Regions from separate parts of the Homo sapiens genome. Here region 2 is linked to region 1. A link means that fine-mapping ties the variant in region 1 to the expression of a gene that starts in the linked region. Tissue or cell type: nasal epithelium. Region 1 holds a variant in brackets; the other region holds the start of a gene. All regions are shown on one strand. Distances are between the middles of the regions.

Region 1 (2,683 bases):
TTTCTTCTTTCTGCTGGCCATTTATTTCCCAGTAGCCCTTTTTATCAGAAGTGGAGCAGAGATGGAGTAGGATACAAATAAATCACATTAATTATTTGTTGCAATAATTATTTGTATGCTGTATGCCAAATAAGTGTATGTGGGGTAAGAGCCATTGGTCATCAAGAAATATCATGATTATCTAGAAATTAAAAAATAATATCAGAGAGGCCTGTGAAGCTTTTGTTAATGGATGAAAACAGACTCCTAAAAAGGACTATACTATGGCATAATGTATGTAATTAAAGCAACAACAAAGCCCAAATCTACTATTAATACAGACTAGATTGACTCACACACACCCTCATTCTAATAGCCTGGCAGAGGCAATGCTCTTTTCTGGACATAGGTGTGATTCACCTGTCTCTACTGGTCCTTTTACTCACAATGCCCAGCATTAATGAAAAATTATAAGACACATGAGAAAGGGAAAAATATGACTTATCATCATAAGAAAAAAGTCATAGAACCAAATTTAGAGATGCTCAGATGTTAGAATTATCCAACAAGACTTTAAAGTATCTATACTAAGTATGTTAAAGAAGCTAGTGGAAAAGGTGGACAGTGTGCATCAATGAATGGAGAATTTCATTAGCGAGATGGAAACTTTTTAAAAAAGCCAGTGGAAATGTTAGAAATCGAAATAACAATATAAGGAAAGAAGACTTTTTAAAATGAACTTATTAACAGAATGAATATATCAGGGAATAACCAATAAAGTTGAAAACGGGGCAATAAAAATGATCCAAACTTAAACACAAAGAGAAAAAAGGGGTGAAAAAAATAGAGGATCCAAGCTCCATAGGACAATATCAAACATTATTTCATATAATGGGAGTTCCTGAAGAAGGGGAGAAAGATAATCAGGCAGAAAAAAATATTTGTAGAGATACTGGCTGAAATTTTTCTAAACTAACGAAACAATCCATCCACAGTTCCAAGAATTCCATGTAACCCCAAGCAGGATAAATAAAAAGAAAAACACACCTAGACACATCAGAATCAAACTGCAGAAAATCAATAAAGACAGAAATCTCAAAAACAGTCTGAGGAAAGAAAATTAAGTACCAGGGGAGAAATGTGATTTCTGATTGCAGAGAGCTGTAGCTACATCCTCCCTCACCACCCCAGCCCCAACCATCTGAGTTTCTCTGATGAGGCTAATGGGACTGCCTCAGAATGAGGTCAGAGAAAAATAGAACAAGTGCCACCAGATGCTACTTACAGATTCTCCTCTGTGCAGAAGGGAAAGTGTTTACACTAGATTGACACATTTTAGGCTCTCATGAA[G/C]AAAGTGGAATCCTTGCATAAAATGGGCTGGAACCAGAGGAAACTCTGGATGTCATGAGTGGAAGTGAAGCCCACAGACAGCAGCTGAGCCATCCAAGAGGGCCGCCCTTCAACCATCAAGCTATAAGCACTGCCACCTCTGCATGAGGTCTTTCTTTCAGTCTTCTCATCAGCCAAGAAACTGGTGCCCATCTCTCTCATTCTCAGCAGGGTGTAGATTCATGCACTGGGTACAATTCATGGGTTGTGCATGAAATTGAATAGAACATCCACCGAGTTTCCTTCCATTTTTGAAATTCTGTGTATTTCCTTTATAGTAGAAAATGTGTGTAAAATGATTGCTCCTCTCTAAGAGTTAAATACTACACCTTGCACATCCCTCTGCTGGTTCACTTTCCTTCCTTCCTTCCTTCCTTCGTTAAAATTATGTATTGTGAGCCTAGTATATGCCAGATATTTATCTCTGTCTCTATGTGGTCTCTATTCATTGGTGAGCAAATGGAGGGCAGGTTCTGCACTGACCTCATTCTTGCACTCCCATGTTGCTGTGTGTGGTTGAGAAAGAAGAAGAAAGGAGGGGAGGGAAGGGAAGGAGAGGGAAGGAAATAAAAGAAAAGGAAAGGAGAGGAAAGGAAAGAAAGCTCTCCCTCTAACAACTTACTTTCTGAAAGGGGCTGAACATGTCTCACTCTCCTGCCTCATTTCAAAATTTTTCCTTCTTAGCTGGTTCTTGAGCCAATAGAAAATTGCTTACAATTGTTGCCTTAGCAACCAGCAACCTTTGTGCTTTACTTCTGATTTAGAACTCATAGTAACCAAAGTCTCCATTTATTTGAAATGAATTTCTAAGTGGGTTTGCTTCCTTTACAAAAAAATAGATTATTTTCAAAAATGTAAATAGAAAATGTATTTTAAATACATTTTAAGTGTCTGTTTCTTGGTGTTCTTTTGGGGTGGGGAGGAGGTTGGGGTATTTTTCAGAGACTCTAGAACAAGCACAAGATAACATGGTGCTAACTTTCAGATTTTTTTTTTTCCTTTTCCAAAAGGTATGAACACTGCAATGAGAATCAAAGAAATCACATGATCTCCAGTCTGGGGCCAGTGCCTTAGGAGCCCCTCCCTGCCCCAGGCTGGCTCATTGCAATGTGCATACCTGCAAAGGCTCCTGACACAGGTATCTTTGTTGTGGAAACCATGAGAAAGTTTCTTAAAGAGGTGTGCCTCGGGTTGGAGCTCAATAAATATCTAAGTGAACTTGACAATGAAGAATGTACCTAGAAGCTTTCCTCCTCAAAACACTATTCAGTACAATTGCACAGCAAGAACTCCAAAATGCAGCTCCAGGGCAAAA
Region 2 (2,683 bases), 81 kb after region 1:
AGGTAAGGGGGCTGCCCACGCTGATCCCCTTCGTGACTACAGGTGCCCAGAGCCTACGGAATAGTCCGGTTGTTGTAATGACAGCGGGGTCAGAGGGAGGCGAGGGATCACAGCCTCGAGTCTCGGGACGCAAAGCCCAGCAGGGCTCTCTGCGGCTCAGGGCCAGCTGGAGAGTAGAGAAAAAGGCTGCCGAAGGCGGGGGCCGAGAACACAATTTGCGGAGCTAGAGCGACCTCCTCAAAAGCCCTTGCGGGACGGGTGGCTGCAGACCCATTTCTCACTGCAGCCGGCGGCGCGCAGCCCCCACAGTCCGCGCAGGCTCGGCTGCTGCAGGGGCGGACGCTGTCCCTGGTGCTGAAGGTGGCCGCGGCCCGTGTGCCCTGCCGGGTTTAGCTACCCAGAGGCGGCTCTGATATCTGAGGATTGCAGACTTCTCTCTGGCCCAGATCTGGGCCGGAGGGTCTGTAGGAGGTGCCCGAGTCCTCCTGCCGGCTCGGCCCCCGCGGCCGGGGGCTCTCCGCGCGGCTGCGGGGACGGAGAGCTCGGGAACCGACTCGAGCTTGAAGGGTAAAGCTGAGGCAGCGGCAGGAGACGGTCAAGGCACTGCAGGGGGCAGACCTGGCCCCAGGATTACCCACCCCAGCTCTGCACAAAGCCGGGACCCGGGAGCCCTCACGGAGCCCAGAGGAGAGGGCAGGGGAGCGCGGCTGCCCGGGGTTTGGGACTTGGGGGCGGGAGAAGGGAGCAGCGGGTGGCAGGAGAGGGTGATGGGGTGAGAGTGACTGTTTTGCATTTTCAAGAGGGAGGGGACCTGAGACATGAACTTCCCCCCCACCCCCCACCAACACACACACACACACACACACACACACACACACACACACACACACACACACACACAGGAGGAGGCCGGCAGAAGCGAGCGGGATGAAACTGGGGAAAGTTTGGCACTCGGCGCTGAGCGGCGGCGGCGGCGCGGTGGTCCGGGTGGGCGGCGGGGTCTCCGAGAGCCCCTGCTCGCTCGCCTCCTTACCTCGGTGCTCTCGGCCGCGTTCTCCGCCATTTTCCTCCTCAGGAGCAGGCAGCGGGAGGAGTGTTTCATGCCCATAAGAGCCGGCAAGGGTTTGGTGATACCGAGATAGTAGAGGAGGAGAGAGAGCTGGTGTCGCTTTAAAAGAGAGAGCGAGAGGATGGGAGAAAAAAAAAAATCCAACCCAGCCCCTCAGCTGGAGCGTCGGCCGGCACAGTCAGCCACAGCGGAGTCTGTTCTGCAGTCTCCACTTTCTTTTATTTTCCTCCCTTCTCATCTGCTCCGGATTCCTTCACACGGTTTCAAGTTCTTCTCGTGCCCCCGACCCCCTCCCCGCCCCTCTCCACCCGCGCTGCGGGCTAAGCTCGAGGGAAGCAGCCCCGAAGCCTCCGCGGCGGCGGCGGCGGCGGTCGCGGATCCTCTCCAGGCTGCTCGCAAAGTCCGGCCGGCCGGAGGCAGCCGCCAACTCCTCTCAACTTCTGCCGATCCGCTGGGCGAAGCAACACGCTTCCTGCGCGTCTCTCCTAGGGGCTGAGCCGGGTGAGTGGGGGCGGGGTAGGAGGTTCGCTGGAGCCGGCGGCGGCTGGGCGCAGACCGAGGGCCCCCAGCGCCCCCGGGCCCGCCCCCTCCCCTAGTCTCCGAGGGTCTCGGCCGCCTCCACTCCCTGGCGCTGCACACAACTTACGTGGAGGCCAGGCCCGCGCGGGGGGCCCAGAGAAAGCCGGCGCCGGGCGAGGCTCTTGCAGGTTCTCAGACCCGGTGCGCGTGCTCCCACCTAGGGCGAGGTCCGGGCGAGACCGGGCCACAGTTAACTCGCACCCTCCCCACCCCGGCCCACCCCAGCTCTCCCGCTCCTCTGCCAGTTCCTGGATCCTTCCTCGGCGAATTACGATTTGGGGAACGAAGGGGTGGGTGTCTGGATGGGGGAGGGTCCTTAACTCCTTCAACTCTAGGGGTAAGTGTGGTGTCATTCTTTATCCTTTTCTCTCTCTCTCTCTCTCTCTCTCTCTCTCTCTCTCTCTCTCTCTTTGTACCCAAAGCCCTTGGGACTCCAAGCCCCTTTCAGGCTGAGAGGGAGGGGCAAAGGTGGCGGCCAGAGTGGCTTGGGAAAGAGGGTGGGAGAAAGTCAAATGCGAGACTGCAGTGCCCCCCCCCCCACTCCAGTCTTCCCTGGCAGCCCCCTGCCCACGCATTTCTCTTCTCCCTCCTCACCCTTCCCCCACCATCGCCAGATTTTGAAGTCCCTTTTATGGGAGAGAGGGAGGATGTCACGTACCCGTCAGGATTCTCTTGATCCTTTTTTAAGGGAGTTTGGGCGGCAGCAGGGGGTGTGAATTTTTATACAATGCATTCCTGTCTTCACTTTGAGAGCTTCTTTTTCTCTGTTTTACTGGCCATCTGTCGGGCAGTGGGAGATAGAACAAAAGCGGGGGACCCCATTCTGCCTCTCCCTTTGCAACAGGACACTCAGGCTGACTCCTTAAAACAGCTGTACTTTTAAGCTTTCAACCTACGAGTCAAGGACTGAGACCTATAAGATGCTCCCTGAGCACCCGGCTGTCTTCACTTCATCTCTGTACTTGTTTGGGGAGGTCCCTCCCAAATGCCCTATTTGCTTTTTATCATCACCTTCGATAACTGGGAAGTGTGAGC

The links. PIP is the estimated chance that this variant, and not a neighbour inherited with it, causes the effect.
Region 2: it holds the start of PRMT8, and the variant in region 1 is fine-mapped to the expression of PRMT8 in nasal epithelium (TOPMed, PIP 0.99).

What each region holds. Positions count from the first base shown.
Region 1 is chr12:3,571,305-3,573,987 of GRCh38, reverse strand. The region is part of intron 6 of PRMT8 (protein arginine methyltransferase 8); the gene reads right to left. Among named protein-coding and RNA genes, the nearest start is that of THCAT155, 80 kb to the right of the region's middle. The variant G/C (reference allele first, on the strand shown) is at 1,330.
Region 2 is chr12:3,490,051-3,492,733 of GRCh38, reverse strand. It overlaps PRMT8 (protein arginine methyltransferase 8), which reads right to left and starts at 1,531. Exons shown (of 10, transcript NM_019854.5): 1 at 1,034-1,531. The coding sequence starts at 1,108. THCAT155 (thyroid cancer-associated transcript 155) reads left to right here. Exons shown (of 2, transcript NR_126055.1): 1 at 1-2.